Linked DNA regions of Homo sapiens. The protein of the gene in region 1 interacts with the protein of each later gene in a biochemical or structural test. Each region holds a gene or a part of one and is shown in the gene's direction. Other genes may lie near its edges.

What was found.
Region 2: the proteins of FKBP5 (region 1) and OGT form a complex in vitro, tested with the Homo sapiens proteins (one large-scale study listed by BioGRID).
Region 3: the proteins of FKBP5 (region 1) and MAPT form a complex in vitro, tested with the Homo sapiens proteins (2 studies listed by BioGRID and IntAct, with this or other methods).
Region 4: the proteins of FKBP5 (region 1) and HSP90AB1 interact in a biophysical measurement, tested with the Homo sapiens proteins (2 studies listed by IntAct).
Region 5: the proteins of FKBP5 (region 1) and HSF1 form a complex in vitro, tested with the Homo sapiens proteins (one study listed by BioGRID).
Region 6: the proteins of FKBP5 (region 1) and HSP90AA1 form a complex in vitro, tested with the Homo sapiens proteins (5 studies listed by BioGRID and IntAct, with this or other methods).
Region 7: the proteins of FKBP5 (region 1) and ESR1 form a complex in vitro, tested with the Homo sapiens proteins (one study listed by BioGRID).

What each region holds. Positions count from the first base shown.
Region 1 is NC_000006.12:35,640,416-35,643,915, reverse strand, and holds part of FKBP5 (peptidyl-prolyl cis-trans isomerase FKBP5), read left to right. Parts: intron 1-1,072; 5' UTR 1,073-1,091; coding exon 1,092-1,196; intron 1,197-3,500. UniProt on the Homo sapiens protein: Immunophilin protein with PPIase and co-chaperone activities. Component of unligated steroid receptors heterocomplexes through interaction with heat-shock protein 90 (HSP90).
Region 2 is NC_000023.11:71,560,604-71,564,103, forward strand, and holds part of OGT (UDP-N-acetylglucosamine--peptide N-acetylglucosaminyltransferase 110 kDa subunit), read left to right. Parts: intron 1-1,171; coding exon 1,172-1,297; intron 1,298-2,243; coding exon 2,244-2,414; intron 2,415-2,526; coding exon 2,527-2,643; intron 2,644-2,725; coding exon 2,726-2,896; intron 2,897-3,500. UniProt on the Homo sapiens protein: Catalyzes the transfer of a single N-acetylglucosamine from UDP-GlcNAc to a serine or threonine residue in cytoplasmic and nuclear proteins resulting in their modification with a beta-linked N-acetylglucosamine (O-GlcNAc).
Region 3 is NC_000017.11:45,992,054-45,995,553, forward strand, and holds part of MAPT (microtubule-associated protein tau), read left to right. Parts: intron 1-1,870; coding exon of another isoform or gene 1,871-1,924; intron 1,925-3,500. UniProt on the Homo sapiens protein: Promotes microtubule assembly and stability, and might be involved in the establishment and maintenance of neuronal polarity.
Region 4 is NC_000006.12:44,250,101-44,254,383, forward strand, and holds the end of HSP90AB1 (heat shock protein HSP 90-beta), read left to right. Parts: coding exon 1-54; intron 55-190; coding exon 191-499; intron 500-947; coding exon 948-1,113; intron 1,114-1,317; coding exon 1,318-1,508; intron 1,509-1,636; coding exon 1,637-1,784; intron 1,785-1,898; coding exon 1,899-2,167; intron 2,168-2,944; coding exon 2,945-3,278; intron 3,279-3,388; coding exon 3,389-3,498; 3' UTR 3,499-3,783; downstream 3,784-4,283. UniProt on the Homo sapiens protein: Molecular chaperone that promotes the maturation, structural maintenance and proper regulation of specific target proteins involved for instance in cell cycle control and signal transduction. Undergoes a functional cycle linked to its ATPase activity.
Region 5 is NC_000008.11:144,311,912-144,315,220, forward strand, and holds the end of HSF1 (heat shock factor protein 1), read left to right. Parts: intron 1-51; coding exon 52-333; intron 334-716; coding exon of another isoform or gene 717-800; intron 801-1,599; coding exon 1,600-1,705; intron 1,706-1,934; coding exon 1,935-2,000; intron 2,001-2,073; coding exon 2,074-2,143; intron 2,144-2,213; coding exon 2,214-2,419; 3' UTR 2,420-2,809; downstream 2,810-3,309. UniProt on the Homo sapiens protein: Functions as a stress-inducible and DNA-binding transcription factor that plays a central role in the transcriptional activation of the heat shock response (HSR), leading to the expression of a large class of molecular chaperones, heat shock proteins (HSPs), that protect cells from cellular insult damage.
Region 6 is NC_000014.9:102,080,242-102,084,044, reverse strand, and holds the end of HSP90AA1 (heat shock protein HSP 90-alpha), read left to right. Parts: intron 1-61; coding exon 62-252; intron 253-351; coding exon 352-499; intron 500-742; coding exon 743-1,011; intron 1,012-1,600; coding exon 1,601-1,934; intron 1,935-2,223; coding exon 2,224-2,333; 3' UTR 2,334-3,303; downstream 3,304-3,803. UniProt on the Homo sapiens protein: Molecular chaperone that promotes the maturation, structural maintenance and proper regulation of specific target proteins involved for instance in cell cycle control and signal transduction.
Region 7 is NC_000006.12:151,838,682-151,842,181, forward strand, and holds part of ESR1 (estrogen receptor), read left to right. Parts: intron 1-3,500.

The sequences.
Region 1 (3,500 bases):
CAAAGGTAGAGGCATTCTAGGGAATCTAAATATGAACAAAGCATGGACCTTGCTCTGAAGGATCTTTTAAACCTAACAGGCGCATAGTCTTATGAATCTCTTACAGACAACAAATCGAGAGAAGAGCTAAGGAAGTACGTAAAAGGGCAAAATGGCCTACAAATAGAGGGTCAAGGTTGGTATGACAGAAGTAGGATTTGAGAGAGGTGGATGTTTTGGAAACAAGAAAGGGAGTGACCAGAAGAATGACTATGGGAAAGCACTGGGTTTGTTGTAGAGGTGGAATTGGCCTAGTTTGGCTGGAGCATGAGCTGCATGAAAGAAAGTAAAATAAAATAATGGCAGCTAGAACTCAAAGATAGATTAGGGCCAGATTGTGAAGGGCCTTGAATGCCACATGGAAGAACATTCTGTAGGTATTTTGGGCAGGAGATGAAAAATGACCCTACAGAAGGCCCAATAATGATGATAAATGGTTAAATATGTTTAAGTTACCAATCTATGCTAATCTTTTAAGAAATGTTATCTCACTGTAACTATGAATAGTGTACTGTGTCCATTTTGCAGATGAAAAATGAAGGCTCAGCAAGATTAAGGAAACTGGAAATGTCAAGAGCTGCAGCTAGGACCCAGACTTGGGTCTGTTGGATTCTAAATCCTGTTCTGTGTCTCACTGTGATTGATATATTGTCACTTCTTTTATTAAGAACTGATAAGGTCTTAATCCTCTGTCAAGAATATGGCTGTAGAAAAAGGATGTTTTCAAAGTTGTGAAGGGACTGCTTCTCACCATGTTATGTTAAGGAATGTAATCACTACCCAACTTGACTTGTACTGTTCTCTGTTTTGAGACCAGAGCTAGATGGGAAATTAAAGAATTGGATGATGTTTTATTTACATGCCTGATGACATCAATACATGCTCATAGCAAATGCCTTTGTTTTCATTTTCAGTATCTAAGCTTATTGGCCCTAAGTAAATCTTAGGTTAGGTAGAGCTCAGTTCCCAGGGACATTCAAGATTCATAAAGAAGTGATATTTTTCCCAGCTAAAATATTTTTCTTCTTACCAGGTTCTCTACTTAAAAGACAATGACTACTGATGAAGGTGCCAAGAACAATGAAGAAAGCCCCACAGCCACTGTTGCTGAGCAGGGAGAGGATATTACCTCCAAAAAAGACAGGGGAGTATTAAAGGTGAGGCCACAAAGCTGAGTGACATACAAGGAAACCTGCTGTCTGGAAAGATTATAGCATCTCTTTCTGAGGGGGGCTGGGGTGGATAATGTTTATTGATGGTTACTAAGTGCCAAACACTAGAGCTAGATTCTCATTTTGTCTTCATAACTTCAAGGTTTTTTTTAAGAGTTGAGTCTCGTTATGTTGCCCAGGCTGGTCTTGAGCTCCTGGGTTCAAGTGATCTTCCCATCTCAGCTTCCTGAGTAGCTGGGATTTTCTTTTTAAATTAATTAATTAAATTTTTGAGAGAGGGCATCTCATTATGTTGCTCAGGCAAGTCTTGAAATCCTGGCCTCAAGCAATCCTCCCACCTCAGCCTTCTGAGTAGCTGGGATTATAGGCACGAGCCACTGTGCCCAGCTAGAGATTTTAATTTTTAATCCCAGATTATAGATGTTGAAATTGAGACTGGGCTAGGTAAATTAACTTGCCTAATATCATATATCTTAGTAATGCAGATTTACCTGGGGTTCAGGTCCAAGTTATATCTCACTCTAAAGGGCTATATTTCCCTATTCTCAGAGTATACAAATAGGTTACTATTTTAATGTATCCTTTTAGTACACTAAAGCTAGCTAATGACAATTTTGAAGACTTTTTAAGGAAAGAAAAGCTAACTTGAAAAATTCAAAGGGGTTTTATTTTATTTTATTTTATTTTATTTTATTTTATTTTATTTTATTTTGAGACAGAGTCTCCCTCTGTTGCCTGGGCTAGAGTGCAGTGGTATGATCTCAGCTCACTGCAACCTCCGCCTCCTGGATTCAAGCAATTCTGCCTCAGCCTCCCGAGTAGCTGGGATTACAGGCGCCTGCTACCATGCCTCGCTAATTTTTGTAGAGACAGGGTTTCACCATGTTGGCCAGGCTGGTCTTGAACTCCTGACCTCAGGTGATCCGCCTGCCTTGGCCTCGCAAAGTGTTGGGATTACAGGCATGAGCCACCGTGCCCGGCCCAAAGGGGTTTATTTTTATATATAAATATTGTTCCTGTGTACAGTGAAGATATCTTTTGCGATTTCCTCTTAGAATATATCTTACTTTTGAATTAGCTTTCCTACTTATTAAAGCACTATACAGTCATTCACCATATAATGACATTTCAGTCAGTGACAGACTGCACCTTCAGCAGTGGTCCCATAAGATTATAATGGGGCCGAAAAGTTCCTATGGCCTAGTGGTGCCATAGCTGTTGTAGCATGGGTAGTACAGTGTATTATGTGTTTGTGGTGATGTGGGTGTAAACAAACCTACTGCACTGCAGTCACAGTTATGTATAGTACATAATACTTGATAATAAATGTTTATATTACTGGTTTATGTGTTTACTATACTTTCTATCATTATTTTAGAGTGTGCTTCTTATTTTTTAAAAAGTTAACTGTAAAACACCCTTGGCTGAGTGCAGTGGCTCATGCCTGTAATCCCAGCACCCTGGGAGGCCAAAGCAAGAGGATCACTTGAGGCCAGGAGTTCAAGACCAGCCTGGGCAACATAGTAAGACCCCTATCTGTAGAAAAAAAATTAAAAAAATTAGCCAGGCATAGTGGCATGTACCTGTAGTTTCTACTACTCAGGAGACTGAGGCAGGAGGATCATGTAAGCCTGGGAGTTCCAAGCTGCAGTGAACTATGATCATACCACTGCATTCTAGCCTGGGTGAGAGTGAGATCCTGTCTCAAAAACAAATGAACAAACAAAAAACAGCCTTGGGCAGGTCCCTCAGGAGGTATTCAAGAAGAAGGCATTGTTATTATAGGAGACAGCAGCTCCATGCATGTTACTGTCCTGAAGACCTTCCAGTGGGACAAGATGTGTTGGTGGAAGACAGTGATACTGATGATCCTGACCCTCTGTAGGCCTAGGTTTATGTATGTGTTTGTGTCTTAGTTTTAAACAAAAAAAAGTTTAAAAAGTAAAAGAATAAAAAATTTAAAAAACAGAAAAATGCTTATAGAATAAGGATATAAAGAAAGAAAATATTTTTGTACAGCTGTACAGTGTTTGTGTTCTAAGTGTCATTACAAGAGTCAAAGCTAAAAAAAAAGTTTACACAGTAAAAATGTTATAGTAAGCTAAGATTGATTTATTATTAAAGAAAGAAGAAAAATTTTAAAATAAATGTAGTCTAGGTGTCCAGTGTTTATAAAGTCTACGGTAGTGTATGGTAATATCCTAGGCCTTCATGTTCACTCACTGCTCACTCGCTGACTCATCCAGAACAACTTCCAGTCCTGCAAGTTCCATTCATGGTAAGTGTTCT
Region 2 (3,500 bases), on another chromosome or scaffold:
GTATATATATATGAATCACTGAAGTCCTAGCAGAAAGGTTTTGAGACTTCTCATTTAATAAATAGTATGTACTAACAAATTTTGCAGTATAGCTGTTGCTTCAAAAGTATACCTGGCCATTTTTGATACACAGTTGGACTCTTTGTGACCAAGAAGCATACCTCTTTCTACCTCTGAGACCTTTAGGGACTCACTGCTGATTGATTGCAGTCTAAACTCTTCAGCATAGCTTTTGTAACCTTTCTCTGTTTGCCACAACTTTGTCAATACTTTAACTCACCATTCAACATCTTGTATACCCTATACTAAATAGAAGTGAATTACTCACCCTTTTTTTTTTTGAGATGGAGTTTTGCTCTTGTCGCCCAGGGTGGAATGCAGTGGCACGATCTCGGCTCACTGCAATCTTTGCCTCCCAGGTTCAAGCGATTCTCTTGCCTCAGCCTCCCGAGTAGCTGGGATTACAGGCGCCTGCCACCACACCCGGCTAATTTTTGTATTTTTAGTAGAGACGGGGTCTCACCACATTGGCCAGGCTGGTCTCGAACTCCTGACCTCAGGTGATCCACCTGCCTCGGCCTCCCAAAGGGCTGGGATTACAGATGTGAGCCACCATGCCCGGCCTACTCACCATTTTCTAAACTCCCTCACACTTTACTCTAGTTCTTCATTCATACTGTTCTCTACTGAGATTGTATTCTGTTAAACTCCTTCAAACTCCTATTCGTCTTTGAAGACCTATTTTCAAATACCAATTCTAGGCTGGGTGCTGTGGCTCACGTGTATAATCCTTTGGGAGGCTGAGGTGGAAGGATTGCTTGAGACCATCATGGGCAACATAGTGAGACCCCATCCCTACCAAAAAAAAAAAAAAGATTACAAATTTCAAATACCAATTTCTCTGTGATATGTTGTTATTCATACATTCAATCCAGAAGTGAACTCTCCTTCCTTTGTGTTCTGTTTCTTTAATGCTTTGGGCCCATTTTAATGACAGTCAACCATATTTGTGCCCGAATTAATGTAGTTAATTTGTGTTCTTACCTCTTTTCCATCTGGGAATCTGAATTATGTTAAATGCCATTAAAACTAAATGCCATTAAAACTAAATGTCATTAAAACTAATTGATCTGAGATTATACATAGTGAGTTCTTATTTTGTATTCTGTAGATTCCATGCAATGGAAAAGCAGCTGATCGCATCCATCAGGATGGAATTCATATCCTTGTAAATATGAATGGCTATACTAAGGGCGCTCGAAATGAGCTTTTTGCTCTCAGGCCAGCTCCTATTCAGGTAAACAAATTAACAGTCATCACTTATAACATGTATTTGGCTAAGAATACAGTGAGGTGCTGCTTTTCCTCCCTCTGGTTAACTGATATTTGAAACTGTAGGGCAGACATACTTTTAATTTTTTTAAGTTGTTGAAATGCACAGGACAAAAAGAGTGTAGAGCACAGTGCTTATAGGTACATGTATATAGAGACATGCAATTCATGGTTGGCTATGAACAGTTACTCTGTCTTGCAAATTTGAAGAACATTTTAGCATTTTGAAAGTTAGTCTGAAATACAGGCCGGGTATGGTGGCTCACGCCTGTAATCCCAGCACTTTGGGATGCTTAGGCAGGAGGATCTCTTGAAACCAGGAGTTTGAGTCCTGCCTGGGCAACAAAGCAAAACACCCTATCTCTACAAAAAATTAAAAAATTAGCCAGAGTGGTGGTGTGCCTCTGTGATCCCAGCTATTTGGGAGGCTAAGGTGGAAGGATTGCTTAAGCTTAGGAGTTTGAGGCTGCAGTGAACTATCACTATGCCACTGCACTCCAGCCCAGGTGACAGAGTAAGAGTCTCTCTTATAGAACTGCTTCATTGCTTTCGGCTAAAGAAGTCAGCCTTGCTGTGCGTGTGGCAAGTGCCTGTAATCCTGGCTACTCTGGAGGCTGAGGCAGAAGGATTGCTTGAGCCCAGGAGTTTGAGGCTGTAGTGATCTACGATTGCACCACTGTATTCCAGCCTAGGGAACAGAGTGAGATCCTGTCTCTAAAAAAGAGTTAGACCTCCTTGTTTATTTACTTATTTAATTTTGGCACCTTTAGGTTCTTTTTTTAAAAACCACTTTATTGAGGTACAGTTGACATACAAAAAGTTGTACATATTTAATGTATGTGACTTGATGAATTTAGAGGTAAGTGTACTGATAAAAGTTCTTAATCAGTTTTTGATCTGATTTTTTTAAGGCAATGTGGCTGGGATACCCTGGGACGAGTGGTGCGCTTTTCATGGATTATATTATCACTGATCAGGAAACTTCGCCAGCTGAAGTTGCTGAGCAGTATTCCGAGAAATTGGCTTATATGCCCCACACTTTTTTTATTGGTGATCATGCTAATATGTTCCCTCACCTGAAGGTAGGTATGAAACAGTGCTATGGACGAATTTCAAAGAACTGTAGCTTTTTATTTCCTTGCTATTGTCTATGTAAATCCTAAAAGACATGTCTGAAACTATTTTTTCCATTAGAAAAAAGCAGTCATCGATTTTAAGTCCAATGGGCACATTTATGACAATCGGATAGTTCTGAATGGCATCGACCTCAAAGCATTTCTTGATAGTCTACCAGATGTGAAAATTGTCAAGGTCAGAACCTAGTCAGTATTGTCATTGAAATAAAGTTAACTGCATTCACGATCTTTTCCCTAATGATGCATTTTTTTTTCAGATGAAGTGTCCTGATGGAGGAGACAATGCAGATAGCAGTAACACAGCTCTTAATATGCCTGTTATTCCTATGAATACTATTGCAGAAGCAGTTATTGAAATGATTAACCGAGGACAGATTCAAATAACAATTAATGGATTCAGTATTAGCAATGGACTGGCAACTACTCAGGTGAGAAGATAATAATACACCATTATATGTCCCGCCAAGTATGCATTTATTTCCCTTAACCTCATGATAACTCTAGGAGGCAAGTATCATTATCACCATTTTTATGGATGAGGAAATGAGTTTAGTGGAAACGTGCATCTTATATAGGTGTGTCTGATTTTAAAAGTCTCCTGGATTCAGCCAGCAGATTATTACTTACTGAGAAACTGCTGTGTTAATATCTTGTTATTCCCTGCCTGTGGCTTTACTCTCTTACATGATGAACTATGTGTAGATTCCATACAGTTTCTTGCTTCTGTAAACCCATCCTTTCCCTAGCTAAATCCTACTCAAACGTTCAGTTCAGACAGCTCTTCCAGGAATCCATTTCCGTACTTACCGCTAACGTCTCCATCCCTACTTCATTGGTACCTGTCTTTTATACCTCTGTAATGTTTGGAATATATCATTACATACAGCACAACAGATGATAATTCCCTGTGTTTGTATCCTCTACTGAATTGAATTACTGAGCCCATGTCTTAATCACAGTAATGTAGTATGTACTCAATAAATAATATATTGCATGCTTAAATAAGTAGCTCTATCAAGAGAGTGTAAGGCA
Region 3 (3,500 bases), on another chromosome or scaffold:
GGGATTACAGGCATGAGCCACCACTCCCAGCCTGAATCCTCACTTTTTATCAATGAAGAAATTGAGGCTGATTCTGCAGCATGATAAAAAAAAATACAGAAAAAGGAAAAAAAAGAAAGAAATCGAGCCTCTGAGAGTTTGCTTGACTGAGTCTAACCAGCTCATTTTAAACCCGAGGAAAATGCAGTCACATGACTACTAAGTGGCAGCTCTCGGAGCCTCTCTGGCCCCAAGTCCAGGGTTCCATAGAGGCAGCCCCAGCATGGCATGTTTTCAGTCCCCAAATGAGACTCTGGAGACAAATGTCTCTGGAGACAGAGCAGCAGCCTGGATAAGTCACAATGGGTGACGTCACTCAGGGCTCAACCCCTGGGCAGCTTAACTTGCTAGGGACGTTAGGAGTCTGCTGCAAAACCTGAGGGTCTTAGCTGAGCAGTCACAGGCTGGGCCCGTTGCCCTGGGCTCCTGTGAGTAAAACCCAGTCAATTTTGAGTACCCAGTAAGGCATCCATTGAGTTATTTTGCAGCCAGGAGTGCTATTAAGAACAGTCGCGGCTGGGCGTGGTGGCTCATGCCTGTAATCCCAGCACTTTGGGAGGCCAAGGTGGGCGGATCACCTGAGGTCAGGAGTTCGAGACCAGCTTGGCCAACATGGCAAAACCCCGTCTCTAATAAAAATACAAAATAATTAGCTGGGCGTGGTGGCGGGCGCCTGTAATCCCAGCTTCTCAGGAGGGTGAGGAAGGAGAATCACTTGAACCCAGGAGGCAGAGGTTGCAGTGAGCTGAGATCGCACCATTGCACTCCAGCCTGGATGACAAAAGTGAGATTCCTTCTCAAAAAAAAAAAAAAAAAAACAGTCGTCCTCTTTGGGGATTAGGGACAGCCTGCCTGCCTGCCCGAGCACTTCTCTCTTCCATTGCCCCAGTGAAGTATTCCAGGCCCCTGGGTTTAGACTCTGCACCATGTAGGGGTGTCTGACCTGCACTTGCTCCTTGGTGGCACGGGCAGCCTATGGCACTTGCTGCGGGCTGTGACCAAAGCCTGGCCTGGATCTTGGATCTTGGTGACTCTGCTTCTCCCTGGCCTGAGGGAGCTGCCCAGAGCCTGCCCACCACCTGCTGCGTGTCTTTGCGGTGGCATTTCTCGCACACATGCCGTGCAGTGGCACCCCCAAGGATGGCCATTCACTAAGGCCCATTGTTTTTGTCTTTTCGCTTCGTGTTTTCTGGCCTGGTGTTTTTCTCATATACATGTGATCCAGGGATAATTCCCAGAATTTTGACAGGATTTTAAGTAGCGTTTGGATCCTGCTGTTTTTTTTTCACTTAACATCGGGCCAGTTGACTCACACTCTGTTTTTTGTTGTTGTTTTTTTGAGACGGAGTCTCACTGTGTCACCCAGGCTGAAGTGCAGTGGCACAATCTTGGCATACTGCAACCTCTGCTTCCCAAATTCAAGCAGTTTTCCTGCCTCAGCCTCCTGAGTAGCTGGGACTACAGGCACAGGCCACCACGCCCTGCTAATTTTTGTATTTTTAGTAAAGACAGGGTTTCACCATTTTGGCCAGCCTAGTCTCGAACTCCTGACCTCAAGTGATCCGCCCACCTCGGCCTCCCAAAGTGCTGGGATTACAGGGGACTCACACTTTGTAACAACCTGAAACAACGTGATGCATTTCCCTTTGGGTCTTACCTGCTCTTCGGTGGCTGCCTGCAGGTGGAGAGACCCTCCCCCTTGGGCCCCTCGACCTTGTTTCAGAATGGGGCCCCTGCTGGGCCAGCTGTGGGTGCCTGCCACGTGAAGGACTCATTAAGGCCCTGTTTAAGCCTGATGATAATAAGGCTTTCGTGGATTTTTCTCTTTAAGCGACTAAGCAAGTCCAGAGAAGACCACCCCCTGCAGGGCCCAGATCTGAGAGAGGTACTCGGGAGCCTACTTCGCTGGGAGCAGCCTCCCTTTGCGTGTGTGGCCATTCACTGGCTTGTGTTTCTAGAGCCGGGAGGACCCTTTTCTGCAATGCAGGGTTCACACAGGGTTCGCAGCCTGAAGATGGAGCAGTCCGAATTCTCTTCCCTGTGCAGTTTGCGCAGCTGTGTTTGTCTGATGGGCTTTCTAATCCTGTGTGCTCTCCTTGACTTCAGGGACAATGGCATTACAGGCATGAGCCACCATGCCTGGCTGTCTCCCTATGTTTCAGATGAAGACATAGGCTTAAGGAGGTCAGGTGACTTGCCCACGACCACTCTGTAAATAAGAGGCATGAAAAGTATTTGGAGCCACCACCACCAAGCCCACTGGTCACCCTGGGTCTCTGAAGTCAGGGAGGCAGGAGGATGGGAGGTCTGAGGAGGCAGAGAGGCTGAGCCTGGAGGCCCTGGAGGCCGAGGCCCCATCTGTTGTTTCCTTATGTGGAAAATAAGAGGCTTCGTTTGTCCTATTGCCACAGAGCGTACTACTTCAGGAACATCCAAGACATGGAAATCCGCAGGGCACGGTGGCTCACGTCTATAATCCCGGCACTTTGGGAGGTTGAGGTGGGAGAATCGCTTGAGGCCAGAAGTTCAAGACCAGCCTGAGCAACATAGTCAGACCCCGTCTCTATAAAAAACATTATTTTTAAAAAAGACATGGAAGTCAAATTCTAAAAACTGGTGCTGGCTGGGTGCGGTGGCTCATGCCTATAATCCCAGCACTTTGGGAGGCCGAGGCGGGTGGATCACCTGAGGTCAGGAGTTCAAGACCAGCCTGGCCAACATGGTAAAACCTCTACTAAAGAAATCTTTACTGAAAATACAAAAATCCAGTCTCTACTAAAATAAGTCTCTACTAAAAATACAAAAATTAGCCAGGCGTGGTGCTGCACACCTGTAATATCAGCTACTCGGGAGGCTGAGGCAGGAGACTCGCTTGATCCCATGCAGCGGAGGTTGCAGTGAGCCGAGATCACGCCATTGCACTCCAGCCTGGGCATCAGAATAAGACTCCGTCTCAAAAAAAAAACCACAAAAAAACAAAACAACAACAAAAGAAAACTAGTGCTTATTCGTCACTGGCCAAGCTGCCCATTGGCTACATGGGTGCTTCAAAGAGCTGCCCTTCTCCAGGTCTGGCCAGCAGGTATGTGTTACAGCAAATGCCTGGGGCAGCGGCAGGGGCATTGCTGCGGGAAGCTTCTGGACTTGCAGGAAAGCTAAGTTCTCAGACTGCAGGGGAGCTAAGCACACCTCGGCACAGGGTGAGGCCTGCGGTTCTCAGACTTCAGTCTTTGTGGAGCTTGAGAAAAATGAGGCTTTGCAGGTCCCACCCCTAGAGATTCTGCTCTATCCACTCTTGAAGGGGATCGAGAAATTTGCATTTTGCAACTCCCACTTTCCTCCTTGAAAGCTCCGGAGATTCTGACGCAGGGTTCCGTGGGCCACACTTTGGAAAATACAGACCCATGAGATAGAATACCAGACTGTTGAAGTGTAACGGGGGCCTGGGAAGTGCAGTAACA
Region 4 (4,283 bases), 8.6 Mb from region 1:
AAAGAAGTAGTGAAGAAGCATTCTCAGTTCATAGGCTATCCCATCACCCTTTATGTGAGTATGGACTTTTAAATCTTTTACACTTAACGTGCAGGATGTTTCCTGTTCTGGAGAATCTCATTGTCCCTGGCTTTTGCTTTCCCTGGTAGTGTTTTGTACTCCAAGGCTAACTTCTGTTTTTGTTACTTAGTTGGAGAAGGAACGAGAGAAGGAAATTAGTGATGATGAGGCAGAGGAAGAGAAAGGTGAGAAAGAAGAGGAAGATAAAGATGATGAAGAAAAACCCAAGATCGAAGATGTGGGTTCAGATGAGGAGGATGACAGCGGTAAGGATAAGAAGAAGAAAACTAAGAAGATCAAAGAGAAATACATTGATCAGGAAGAACTAAACAAGACCAAGCCTATTTGGACCAGAAACCCTGATGACATCACCCAAGAGGAGTATGGAGAATTCTACAAGAGCCTCACTAATGACTGGGAAGACCACTTGGCAGTCAAGGTGTGAGAAGCCTTTGCATGTTGGCTCAACATGCACATATGGAGAGGAATGAGTTAGGTGGAAGAGTGTTGGGTAATAGACACACGGAACTTGTCCAACTGATAACAGAAATGTGATAGCCATGTGATTTCACTTACTGATTACCCTGTCATAGTGAAGTGCCATCATTTCTAATGACCTCACTTTCTCTTCTTATGGAAATCTGGGTAATGTCTATTGGCAGCCTTACACATCCAGGGTTCTGATCAGAGGGGACTGTTTTCTACATACAGCTAGTACCCATCTAGATCGTGGAGGGCATTAAGGCTCAGTTTTCTCAGGAGCTGCTTGTTGTGTGTGCTCTATCCCTTAGGCTTAGGGAGGATCATTGTTCCACTTTTAGATAATTTGGTGTTGGGGCTAAAAGGTCCTCTTTTGAAATGTACCACTTATTTTTGGTTTCTTTCAGCACTTTTCTGTAGAAGGTCAGTTGGAATTCAGGGCATTGCTATTTATTCCTCGTCGGGCTCCCTTTGACCTTTTTGAGAACAAGAAGAAAAAGAACAACATCAAACTCTATGTCCGCCGTGTGTTCATCATGGACAGCTGTGATGAGTTGATACCAGAGTATCTCAGTGAGTATCTCCTTGGCCTAATTTAGTTGGGTGAAGTCTTGGGAGGTTTTAGGCATTCTGCTAGGATATTCTAAGGTAACAGTTTTCTGCAATACATAGTAGGTGTAAGGGTTCAGGAGGCTATTAGAGCCTTCTGTTTGAATCTGGGGACCAGGTCTGGTCTAGCTGTTTTTTACTGAGCTTTCTCACCCTGGTTGATGGCAGATTTTATCCGTGGTGTGGTTGACTCTGAGGATCTGCCCCTGAACATCTCCCGAGAAATGCTCCAGCAGAGCAAAATCTTGAAAGTCATTCGCAAAAACATTGTTAAGAAGTGCCTTGAGCTCTTCTCTGAGCTGGCAGAAGACAAGGAGAATTACAAGAAATTCTATGAGGCATTCTCTAAAAATCTCAAGGTAAAAAGGCAAATAATGCTTATTCCCTTTACCACTTTCTTAGTAATAACAATAAATTATTCCATTCACATTGAAAGTGAAGTTATTGTAGTTAAGCTGGATTGTTTTTCCTCTTCCCACCCTTCAAGCTTGGAATCCACGAAGACTCCACTAACCGCCGCCGCCTGTCTGAGCTGCTGCGCTATCATACCTCCCAGTCTGGAGATGAGATGACATCTCTGTCAGAGTATGTTTCTCGCATGAAGGAGACACAGAAGTCCATCTATTACATCACTGGTGCGTTGACTCTGATTGAAGCCTTTTTGGAGGAGTGGGGAGCACAATTAGGGCTTCCTGGGAACTGGCAGTATGAGGCATTTTAGTCACTGAGTTCATTTAATTACCCTACAGGTGAGAGCAAAGAGCAGGTGGCCAACTCAGCTTTTGTGGAGCGAGTGCGGAAACGGGGCTTCGAGGTGGTATATATGACCGAGCCCATTGACGAGTACTGTGTGCAGCAGCTCAAGGAATTTGATGGGAAGAGCCTGGTCTCAGTTACCAAGGAGGGTCTGGAGCTGCCTGAGGATGAGGAGGAGAAGAAGAAGATGGAAGAGAGCAAGGCAAAGTTTGAGAACCTCTGCAAGCTCATGAAAGAAATCTTAGATAAGAAGGTTGAGAAGGTAAGCCATTCTGGGGCTAGGATATATTTTGTAACATCTTCGAGGTGGGCTCCCTCACAAGCATGTTTCTATACAATTAGTGGTTTGAGGCAGCCTATTTACTGTTTCATGCCTTCTTGCCTCTTGTTCTCTTCTCTAGTCAGGTTTAAGGCTATTTTAATAAAATTTGGCACAGATTAGGCATTGCTTCAGTTAACTTCTGAGAGTAGATAAAATACCATCATTTTCTTTTTTTTTTCTTTTTTTGAGATGGGGTCTCGCTCTGTCACCCAGGCTGGAGTGCAGTGGCACGATCTCTGCTCATTGCAAGCTCCGCCTCCTGGGTTCACGCCATTCTCCTGCCTTAGCCTCCTGAGTAGCTGCCACTACAGGCGCCCGCCACCACACCCCGGCTAATTTTTTGTATTTTTAGTAGAGATGGGGTTTCATCGCGTTAGCCAGGATGGTCTCCATCTCCTGACCTTGTGATTCGCCCACCTCGGCCTCCCAAAGTGCTGGGATTAACAGGCGCAAGCCACCATGCCTGGCCGATTTTTTTTTTTTTTGGACTGGATCTCGCTCACTGCAAACTCAAGTCTCCTGAGTGGCTGGGATTACAGATGTGTGCTACCACACCCGGTTAATTTTTTGTAGACAGGGTTTTGCCATGTTGGCCAGCATGGTCTCAAACTCAAGTGGTCTGTCCACCTCCTCCCCCTGCTGGAATTAGGCTTGACAATGCCTGTTTTCTCTTTCAAAGTGGTAATGTCAATCTAAGGCTTTTGTGATCGTCCACAGGTGACAATCTCCAATAGACTTGTGTCTTCACCTTGCTGCATTGTGACCAGCACCTACGGCTGGACAGCCAATATGGAGCGGATCATGAAAGCCCAGGCACTTCGGGACAACTCCACCATGGGCTATATGATGGCCAAAAAGCACCTGGAGATCAACCCTGACCACCCCATTGTGGAGACGCTGCGGCAGAAGGCTGAGGCCGACAAGAATGATAAGGCAGTTAAGGACCTGGTGGTGCTGCTGTTTGAAACCGCCCTGCTATCTTCTGGCTTTTCCCTTGAGGATCCCCAGACCCACTCCAACCGCATCTATCGCATGATCAAGCTAGGTCTAGGTAAGTAGCTTTGGTACTTGGTGTGGCAAGGAGTTTGTGCAACTCGTCTCCTCTATGGATTTGACTTAATGCTATTTGGTCAAGTCTCACATGGCTTAATTTTACTTCAGGTATTGATGAAGATGAAGTGGCAGCAGAGGAACCCAATGCTGCAGTTCCTGATGAGATCCCCCCTCTCGAGGGCGATGAGGATGCGTCTCGCATGGAAGAAGTCGATTAGGTTAGGAGTTCATAGTTGGAAAACTTGTGCCCTTGTATAGTGTCCCCATGGGCTCCCACTGCAGCCTCGAGTGCCCCTGTCCCACCTGGCTCCCCCTGCTGGTGTCTAGTGTTTTTTTCCCTCTCCTGTCCTTGTGTTGAAGGCAGTAAACTAAGGGTGTCAAGCCCCATTCCCTCTCTACTCTTGACAGCAGGATTGGATGTTGTGTATTGTGGTTTATTTTATTTTCTTCATTTTGTTCTGAAATTAAAGTATGCAAAATAAAGAATATGCCGTTTTTATACAGTTCTGCTTTCCCTTGTGAAGTGGATGTTATCCTTCCCTAGCTTCTTCATCCCTCCAGCTCTTGCTGTTTTCATGAGCACAGCAAGTTGAGCTGGTTTTGTAGTGAAAATAACAGAATACCAGTGAGTCTTAAGAGTTCACACACTGAAGCTAAAGGCAGTTTGGAAAAACTACCATATAATAATGCCCTTTCAGTCAACCAAAACACAGGACCAAGTCCACTGCAGTAATTTAATTTAATAAAATAAAATTATAAGAGCAAAAAGTTACATTTCTAAAGTACCAAAACCTGCAACAGGCTCATGGAACAGAGCCTAGGGATCCAGGAGCATAGGAGGTGGTGGTGCTGGGCAGGGCTCTGCATCCCCTTTCCTCAGCACAGCACCATCTTCACCCTCCTGGGAAAGCAGCATTGGAGCCTACACCGCTTGTGCTTTTCTCACCAGGGTAAGAAATGCAGGTATTTGCAGAGGGGAGTGAGTCTGGAAGGTGGCAGAGCA
Region 5 (3,309 bases), on another chromosome or scaffold:
TGAGGTGGGGCTGGCCGAGACGCCAGCTCACCTGGCCCCCCTCGTGTGCAGGCCCCTATCCAGCAGCCCCCTGGTGCGTGTCAAGGAGGAGCCCCCCAGCCCGCCTCAGAGCCCCCGGGTAGAGGAGGCGAGTCCCGGGCGCCCATCTTCCGTGGACACCCTCTTGTCCCCGACCGCCCTCATTGACTCCATCCTGCGGGAGAGTGAACCTGCCCCCGCCTCCGTCACAGCCCTCACGGACGCCAGGGGCCACACGGACACCGAGGGCCGGCCTCCCTCCCCCCCGCCCACCTCCACCCCTGAAAAGTGCCTCAGCGTAGCCTGCCTGGACAAGTGAGTGCCGCCCACCCCTGGCCCCACCCACAGCGCCTGGACGCACAGCCCTGGGCTTCAGCCCCGACTGTCCCAGTGGACTGAGCAGGGCAGCTGGCGAGGCAGGACCCTACCCCCAACCTCGGAGCTCGGGGCTGGGGAGGGAGACAGGTGCCAGCCAGATCACCCCACAGTCCCAAACGCCACAGAAGCCACGGGCATGTCCGGACAGGCTGCCGGGCCCTGCTCTCAGCCACCCGTCCTGCTGCCGCCACCCTCGCCACAGGCCACGGGCCCTGGCAGGTCGTGCTGCCCAGACACATGGCAGGAGATGGTGAGCAGGGCCGGCCTCCACACCCCCAGCCCCTGCCTGCAATGGGGGCTCTTGTTTTTGTATCTTGCAGTTTGGCTCGCACTCCACAGATGTCTAGGGTCGCCCGCCTCTTCCCCTGCCCCTCTTCCTCTCCGCATGGCCAAGTCCAGCCAGGGTTAGCGCTGACCCCACTGGGGAGGGAGGAGGGCTCTGCCAGCGCTCGGGCCCTCCCACACAGCCGTGGACCAGACCCAGCCTGGCCGGGCATGAGCGTCGGGCCTGGGCGGCAGCAGCCGAGACCCCTCTGTGGCGGGGGCTCAGTGTCGTCATGGCTCCCCTGGCCACGGGCCTGTGGTCATTGCCTGTGACAGGGATGACAGGGACAGGCCTCCCTGCTCTGGCACGGCCTCTGGTGTTGGCAGGATCCAGACTGCGGTGCTGACTGCACTTCCTGTCAGGCAGGGTCTCCAGGGCACCTCTGGGACCCAGCCTGGCTGTCCGTCCCATAGCCCAGGTGTGCCCTGTGGCCTAGGGCTTTCTTGGTCACAGCCACCAGACCGTGGGTCTCATCCCCACAGCAGCACCAGGGCAGGGACTGAGCCACCCACACACTGAGCAGAGCCCCACCTGTTTTCCCAGTGCAACGGGAAACCTCACCAACCCTGAACACTGAAATCCCTGATCCTTGTGCTGGAGCTGAATACGCCCCTTGTCTCCTGGGTCCACTGCCACCAAGGCCCCCAGGCCCTCATGGCAAAGGGATGCCCAGCATAGGCCCAGCCGCACCCCTGCAGGGCACAGAGCCTCCACTGCCTTCCAGGCCGTCCTCGAATGCGCTGCCCCCTCCAGCCTGTGCAGGCGTACACGGGGGTGCAGCCTGGGGGGTACAGTCAAGGGGAGCCCTTCTCCCACAGGAGGGCATTGGGGTGTGGGGCCTGGGGCACTGGTTCAGGTACCGCCTTATCCCGGGCCAGGAATGAGCTCAGTGACCACTTGGATGCTATGGACTCCAACCTGGATAACCTGCAGACCATGCTGAGCAGCCACGGCTTCAGCGTGGACACCAGTGCCCTGCTGGACGTGAGTGGAGCCCCGCCGCCCCGCCTCCCCGCCCCGCCTCCCCGCCGCGCCGCCCCGCCTCCCCGCCCCGCCTCCCCGCCTCCCCGCGCCGCCGCCCCGCCTCCCCGCCCCGCCTCCCCGCGCCTCCCCGCCTCCCCGCCCCGCCTCCCCGCCTCCCCGCCCCGCCTCCCCGCCCCGCCTCCCCGCCCCGCCCCCGGGTGCTGTTCTGACTTCCCTCCCTCCTCCGCAGCTGTTCAGCCCCTCGGTGACCGTGCCCGACATGAGCCTGCCTGACCTTGACAGCAGCCTGGCCAGTGTGCGTAGGCGGGCGGGGGGTGAGGGGGAACGAGACCAGCGGGAGTGCTCACAATACCGTCTCCACCCCACAGATCCAAGAGCTCCTGTCTCCCCAGGAGCCCCCCAGGCCTCCCGAGGCAGAGAACAGCAGCCCGGATTCAGGTGAGCCAAGTCCCACCGGCCCCACCTCTGCCCCCAACCCCCCACCGCCTTGACACCCCCACCCCCGCAGGGAAGCAGCTGGTGCACTACACAGCGCAGCCGCTGTTCCTGCTGGACCCCGGCTCCGTGGACACCGGGAGCAACGACCTGCCGGTGCTGTTTGAGCTGGGAGAGGGCTCCTACTTCTCCGAAGGGGACGGCTTCGCCGAGGACCCCACCATCTCCCTGCTGACAGGCTCGGAGCCTCCCAAAGCCAAGGACCCCACTGTCTCCTAGAGGCCCCGGAGGAGCTGGGCCAGCCGCCCACCCCCACCCCCAGTGCAGGGCTGGTCTTGGGGAGGCAGGGCAGCCTCGCGGTCTTGGGCACTGGTGGGTCGGCCGCCATAGCCCCAGTAGGACAAACGGGCTCGGGTCTGGGCAGCACCTCTGGTCAGGAGGGTCACCCTGGCCTGCCAGTCTGCCTTCCCCCAACCCCGTGTCCTGTGGTTTGGTTGGGGCTTCACAGCCACACCTGGACTGACCCTGCAGGTTGTTCATAGTCAGAATTGTATTTTGGATTTTTACACAACTGTCCCGTTCCCCGCTCCACAGAGATACACAGATATATACACACAGTGGATGGACGGACAAGACAGGCAGAGATCTATAAACAGACAGGCTCTATGCTATGGCCTCCATGTGTTTCCTCTGTCCCAGGGTGGTGCGGTGGGTGGTGCTGCAATGAGGAGGGGCCCAGGGCACAGAAGGGCCGGGCTGCAGTGGCCTCCTGGGGGAAGACGGATGCTTGCAGCTAGCTCCGTGCCTGCCCGACTCCCCAGGACCAGCATGTGCTTGCAGTTCTTTATTGAGGGACCAGGGGTGGGCGCCTCACCTTGGCCCTGGGGGTCTCTGGTTGTCACAGGACCACCAGGAACCCCCTTCCCAAGGTGTTCGCACTCGGACAGGTGATGCGGGGCGGGCACACTGTCTTTCTGCCAGAGCCAGCACCCTGTGTAGGCACGGGGAACGGGAGCCTGTCCCGTAGCTTTAGGGTTCTCCACTCAGCCTGGTGGAGGAAGGGAAGGGGGCCTGCGCTGGGCAGTGGAGCAGGCTTTGCTGCTTTATCTGGCAGCAACAGTTTGTTCTCGAGCTCCACTGGCCAACTGATAGGGAGAGGCACAGGAGCC
Region 6 (3,803 bases), on another chromosome or scaffold:
TTACATAGTACCAGTTTTGTCCTTGGAATGACTCAGTGCATTTGGTTTATATTTTTTTCAGACTTCATTAGAGGGGTGGTAGACTCGGAGGATCTCCCTCTAAACATATCCCGTGAGATGTTGCAACAAAGCAAAATTTTGAAAGTTATCAGGAAGAATTTGGTCAAAAAATGCTTAGAACTCTTTACTGAACTGGCGGAAGATAAAGAGAACTACAAGAAATTCTATGAGCAGTTCTCTAAAAACATAAAGGTTGGTGTAAATAACCATTAGTTTTCCAATTGGCCTCTTTAGTTTTTTTTTTTTTTTTTTAATTCAGAAAGTCTTTGTAAAGAACATACTTTGTTTCAGCTTGGAATACACGAAGACTCTCAAAATCGGAAGAAGCTTTCAGAGCTGTTAAGGTACTACACATCTGCCTCTGGTGATGAGATGGTTTCTCTCAAGGACTACTGCACCAGAATGAAGGAGAACCAGAAACATATCTATTATATCACAGGTAAGAGAACACTATGTTACAGTCATACACGTCGTTCTTACAATCTTGTAGGCTCTGTGGGTGTGTTTTCTACTCAGGTAGCACTGTTACAACTGGTATTGATCTAGGCAAGATAATTAACATGAACTAGGTCATTTTCTGTCTTAGGTTCTGCCTAGGTATCTGGCTAGCAAGAAAAGTCAGAGCTAGATGAAACCATTCTTAACTGTTAAAAGGTCTAAAAGTAACTTTGTAATACCTCAGGTGAGACCAAGGACCAGGTAGCTAACTCAGCCTTTGTGGAACGTCTTCGGAAACATGGCTTAGAAGTGATCTATATGATTGAGCCCATTGATGAGTACTGTGTCCAACAGCTGAAGGAATTTGAGGGGAAGACTTTAGTGTCAGTCACCAAAGAAGGCCTGGAACTTCCAGAGGATGAAGAAGAGAAAAAGAAGCAGGAAGAGAAAAAAACAAAGTTTGAGAACCTCTGCAAAATCATGAAAGACATATTGGAGAAAAAAGTTGAAAAGGTATGTGAATACAGCATTTCCTGATCATTGATACTTCTAAGGTGCTTTCAAGCTTAGTCATACATAGCCCATTTTCGCATGTTTTCAACTTAAAACAGAAAACTATGTTGTGTGTGGCTGGGCGCGGTGGCTCACGCCTGCAATCCCAGCACTTTGGGAGGCTGAGGCAGCGGATCACAAGGTCAGGAGATCGAGACCATCCTGGCTAACACGGTGAAACTCAGTCTCTACTAAAAATAGAAAAAAATAAACCAGGCGTGGTGGCACGGCCTGTAATCCTAGCCACTTGGGAGGCTGAGGCAGGAGAATCGCCTGAACCCAGGAGGCGGAGGTTGCAGTGAGCCAAGATCGCACCACTGCACTCCAGCCTGGGTGATGGAGCGAGACTCTATCTCAAAAAAAAAATTGTGCATGTAAAACATGAAATTATAACCTGTGCTCTTTGGATACCTAATGCGACATTTAAGTTGTATTTGACAGTAGATAGTATTTTGGATCTATTGAAATTTGGGTTCTACAGATTTCATTTCACAATGAAAGTTTAGGAATTAATCTTTCTAGGTTCCTAGTCATCACTTTTTGATTACAGGTGGTTGTGTCAAACCGATTGGTGACATCTCCATGCTGTATTGTCACAAGCACATATGGCTGGACAGCAAACATGGAGAGAATCATGAAAGCTCAAGCCCTAAGAGACAACTCAACAATGGGTTACATGGCAGCAAAGAAACACCTGGAGATAAACCCTGACCATTCCATTATTGAGACCTTAAGGCAAAAGGCAGAGGCTGATAAGAACGACAAGTCTGTGAAGGATCTGGTCATCTTGCTTTATGAAACTGCGCTCCTGTCTTCTGGCTTCAGTCTGGAAGATCCCCAGACACATGCTAACAGGATCTACAGGATGATCAAACTTGGTCTGGGTAAGCCTTATACTATGTAATGTTAAAAAGAAAATAAACACACGTGACATTGAAGAAAATGGTGAACTTTCAGTTATCCAAACTTGGAGCACCTTGTCCTGCTTGCTGCTTGGAGGTATTAAAGTATGTTTTTTTTAGGGATAAGTAAGGTCTTACAAGAGCAAAGAAATGAAATTGAGACTCATATGTCCTGTAATACTGTCTTGAAAGCAGATAGAAACCAAGAGTATTACCCTAATAGCTGGCTTTAAGAAATCTTTGTAATATGAGGATTTTATTTTGGAAACAGGTATTGATGAAGATGACCCTACTGCTGATGATACCAGTGCTGCTGTAACTGAAGAAATGCCACCCCTTGAAGGAGATGACGACACATCACGCATGGAAGAAGTAGACTAATCTCTGGCTGAGGGATGACTTACCTGTTCAGTACTCTACAATTCCTCTGATAATATATTTTCAAGGATGTTTTTCTTTATTTTTGTTAATATTAAAAAGTCTGTATGGCATGACAACTACTTTAAGGGGAAGATAAGATTTCTGTCTACTAAGTGATGCTGTGATACCTTAGGCACTAAAGCAGAGCTAGTAATGCTTTTTGAGTTTCATGTTGGTTTATTTTCACAGATTGGGGTAACGTGCACTGTAAGACGTATGTAACATGATGTTAACTTTGTGGTCTAAAGTGTTTAGCTGTCAAGCCGGATGCCTAAGTAGACCAAATCTTGTTATTGAAGTGTTCTGAGCTGTATCTTGATGTTTAGAAAAGTATTCGTTACATCTTGTAGGATCTACTTTTTGAACTTTTCATTCCCTGTAGTTGACAATTCTGCATGTACTAGTCCTCTAGAAATAGGTTAAACTGAAGCAACTTGATGGAAGGATCTCTCCACAGGGCTTGTTTTCCAAAGAAAAGTATTGTTTGGAGGAGCAAAGTTAAAAGCCTACCTAAGCATATCGTAAAGCTGTTCAAAAATAACTCAGACCCAGTCTTGTGGATGGAAATGTAGTGCTCGAGTCACATTCTGCTTAAAGTTGTAACAAATACAGATGAGTTAAAAGATATTGTGTGACAGTGTCTTATTTAGGGGGAAAGGGGAGTATCTGGATGACAGTTAGTGCCAAAATGTAAAACATGAGGCGCTAGCAGGAGATGGTTAAACACTAGCTGCTCCAAGGGTTGACATGGTCTTCCCAGCATGTACTCAGCAGGTGTGGGGTGGAGCACACGTAGGCACAGAAAACAGGAATGCAGACAACATGCATCCCCTGCGTCCATGAGTTACATGTGTTCTCTTAGTGTCCACGTTGTTTTGATGTTATTCATGGAATACCTTCTGTGTTAAATACAGTCACTTAATTCCTTGGCCTTACAGTGTCTCAAAGTTCTTTACAAATCTACTTAAAGCCATCCTGGCTGAGGCAGGAGAATCGCTTGAACCTGGGAGGCGGAGGTTGCGGTGGGCTGGGATTGCACCATTGCGCTGCAGCCTGAGCAGCAAGAGCGAAACTCCATCTCAAAAAAAAGATGAAAAAATCAGCCCAATAGGTAAGAGTCCCTCTGGGGACTGGGGGTGGTAATGGCTAAATAAAAGTCTTCACTTCTGAAATTTGGTGGTTCTAGAGACAAAACTTGGTTAGATAGCATATAGGATTTGCATTCTGAGCCTAACGCCATATATAAAAATGATAGGAAATGCCTGGGACTTGGATATGTGACAGTGTCTAAGGGGGCAGTGCACAGGCAGGGAGAGACCTTGTCTCAGTCTCGTGCTAAGCAGGTATTGAATGCTTGGTAAATGGCAATCACGTTTAGTCCTTTAAATTCTCTGAAAAGTTCTTAATCCCCTTCGATAATATACAGGAGGA
Region 7 (3,500 bases), about 120 Mb from region 1:
TATGGAGTAAGTCTGGGCCAAAATGATAATTGACAATGTTATTTACATGGATTTCTAAGTTGGCTAAAAAAGTTCCTTTATGGTTAGTGAATATAGCCCATGTAGTTTCCCCGTCTTCTTTAGATGCCTTCTATTTCTATGCCCAAAGTCTGCAGTTGATTTTCAGTAAGCTGGGGGTCATCTTAGAGATAAAATGTAGATGAATGGCATTTTGCTGACAGCATACATCTTTGCTATTTCTGAGGAAAATGGGCTCTCGCTATTAAATCTTTTGTCAATATTTATAAAAATAGTATTTACATATTCTATCTATATTGTGGAAACTATACATTTATTGATTCAGTCATTTGATATCAATGTTGTTGAGTCCCTATTCCAAGTGAGGCACTATGCTCTAAGCACATGGCATTTTAAAGATGAATAAGACACCAAGAACTTTGCAGATAGTAATGGAAATGAGAATTAATCAATTGAAGATTAATATAGTAAGTAGCAGAAGAGAAATAAAAAAATCTTCTAGAGAGTTCAGAACAGGGATGTTGATTCAAGTTTATGGGGATTAGGAGTGGCTGGTAAGGGAGGCATTCAGGCAAAAGACATAAAAATGCAGTATTCCCCTCGCACTCATTAGGATGGCTACTATATTAGAAAAAGAAGAGAGTAAGTGTTGGAGAGGATATAGAGCAAATAGAAACCTTGTGCCTTGTTCATGAGAATGTAAAATGGTGCAGCCACTGTGGAAAACACTGGTGATTCCTCAAAAAATCAAAATAGAATTATCATATGATCCAGTAATTCTACTTCTGGGTATATATCTAAAAGAATTAAAAATCTGGGTCTTGAAGAAATATTTGTATACTCATAGTTATAGCAACATTATTCATAATAGCCAAAAAGTAGAAGCAATCCAGATGTCTATAGATGGATGAATGGGTAAACAAAGTCTGTGTAGTATATACAGACAATGGCATATTAGTCACATCATGGACCTTCAGGACATTATCCTAAGTGAAATATGCTAGACACAAAAAGCAAAAGTAGGGTTTCACTTAATGAGGTATCTAGAATTGCCACATTCACAGAGAACAAAAGTAGATTGGTGGCTGCTAGGGGATAGGGGAAGGAGAAAATGGGGAATTATTGTTGAATGGGTATGGAGTTTCAGTTTTGTGAAATGAAAATGTTCTGAAGACTGGTTGCACGATGATGTGAGTATATCTAACATGATTGAATTGATGAACACTTAAGCGTGGTTACGATGGTAAATTTTGTGTTATATATATCTTACCACAATTTAAAAAATATAGCATTTTATTATGTAGGCGTGGGTGGGAAGATACTTGACACATTGGAACTTCTGGCCATGCGTATACTGTTCACTCACTTATTCCTTCATTCATTCAACAAACATGTATTGAATGCTTGCTATGTGCTGGGCACTGAGCTAGATATAACAATTAATAAGGCTTATAAGACATTGAATCTATCAATTTCATGCTTGCTAAATATCTACTCCCACCTCCAAAGGCACTAAGCTTCTACAGTTAGATATTCATAGCTGCTTCCTACTGACTTGAATCATGCATAGGATATTAGTAAACAAGCAATAAAAAGATTTGAGGTTGATGGGGGTGGGTTCAACAGCATGGTGGTGAAATGGAAAGAGATGGGTAACAGAATATGAACTAGAATTGAAAACTGTGAGCCAGTGCTCTCTAATGAACATTAAAAAATAAAGAATTCCTATTTGAGGCTGCCAACCTCAGAACTAAGTTATTTAGAATGGACGAAATTGGCAAAGTCAGACGTACTCAACCCAAGGAGCCAATATTTTGTGAATATTATGGCAAATGTAGTTTGAGAACCACTACCACAAAATTGTGAACCATAATAATGACTGAGAAGGCAGGGAGAGGTTATACAATTTGGGCTAAAAGGAAAGACAGGGCTTGTGAAGGGGAGCGCCAGTGAAAGTCAGTGTGGTTCGGGTATTTGGGTGGGGACTGGAAGCAGGAAGCTTGAGCTTCCTTTGCCAAGAGACCCTGCTGGAAGGGCTATCATCAATTGACTTTAGCTCATCTTAGGATTTTCATTTTTTAAAAAATGTTCACAGGAACCTTCACTCCATCTATACTTTCAATGTCTGCCTACCTTTCTTTCTTATACAACTTTGAACACTCTCTCCATTCATTTAAATATATTATGGAGTGCCAACTACATGCCAGGTACTGTGCTGGGCTCTTATTCCACCTTTATTTGATTGCACATGCCTGCCAAGTCCTGGGCCAATATAACATCTACTCCTATGTCTGGTCTGGCGAGAGATGCAAACTCATCTTCCTCTACTTTCCTTACCTCCTTCCTTCCAGTCTTCTTCAAGTTGTCTTCATTGAGGCAATTTCTTTTACCTGTGTTTTTAATCCCAACTCCTCTAGTTTCCTTCTTGGCTTTATTCTTTTATCTTCCTCTTTGTGCTTTCAAACATTCCCTTTCTCCTGGCCCATGCCCTTCAGTCTACACGAGGCCTTCTCAAGTCTCTTCATTCTAAAAAATTCATTTTCTTGGGTCTTATATTCTTCAGCTGCCACCCTATCTGTATCTTTTCCTATTCTCCTCCAAGTTCTCAAAGGAATGCCTTCCCTCATTTTCATCTCCTTACATTCCATCTGCTGAATTTTGGCTTGTGCCTGTACCTGTCTAAGGAAACTCCTTGCTAAGAGTCTGCTTTGTCAGGTCTGAATTCACTTAACCAGTCTTTGCTTTGTTGGACTTCTCTGCCCCATTTGCCATTCTTGATCATCCTCTCCATAAACCTTTCTACTTAAAGCATTTTACTTCCTTATTTTCTTGGTTTTCCTAGAATCTCCTTACTGTTCATTTTCAGCTTCCTTTCTGTGTTCCTCTTCTCTTCCTACATTTTTTTTTAGCTTTCTACTTTCTTAAAGCATTTTACTTCCTTATTTTCTTGGTTTTCCTAGAATTTTCTTACTGTTCATTTTCAGTTTCCTTTCTGTGTTCCTCTGATTGTCTCTCTTTCTACATTTTTTTTTTCTGTGTTCCTCTGATTTTCACGCAGTCTGGAGTTGTCATGATCAATCATAGCCTACTGCAGCCTCGACATCCTAGGCTCAAGTGATTCTCCCACCTCAGCCTTACAAGTAGCTAGGACTACAGTCACACATCACCATTCTCAGCTAATTTTTTTAAGAAGCATTTTTATAGAGATGGAGTCTTGCTATATTGTGCAGGCTGGGCTCAAACTACAGGGCTTAAACAATTCTCCTGCTTTGGCCTCCCAAAGTGCTGGGATTCCAGGCATGAACCACCATGCTCAGTCTCTACATGTTCCTAAAGAGGAGTTTTGAATATTGAAGAACAGTATTTTCAAATTACATTATTCAAGTTATAAAAACTGATATCCAGGGTTATGTGGCAATGACGTAAAAATTTGAATTGTTATTTTTTTGACACATGTTCTGTGTTGTCCATCAGTTCATCTG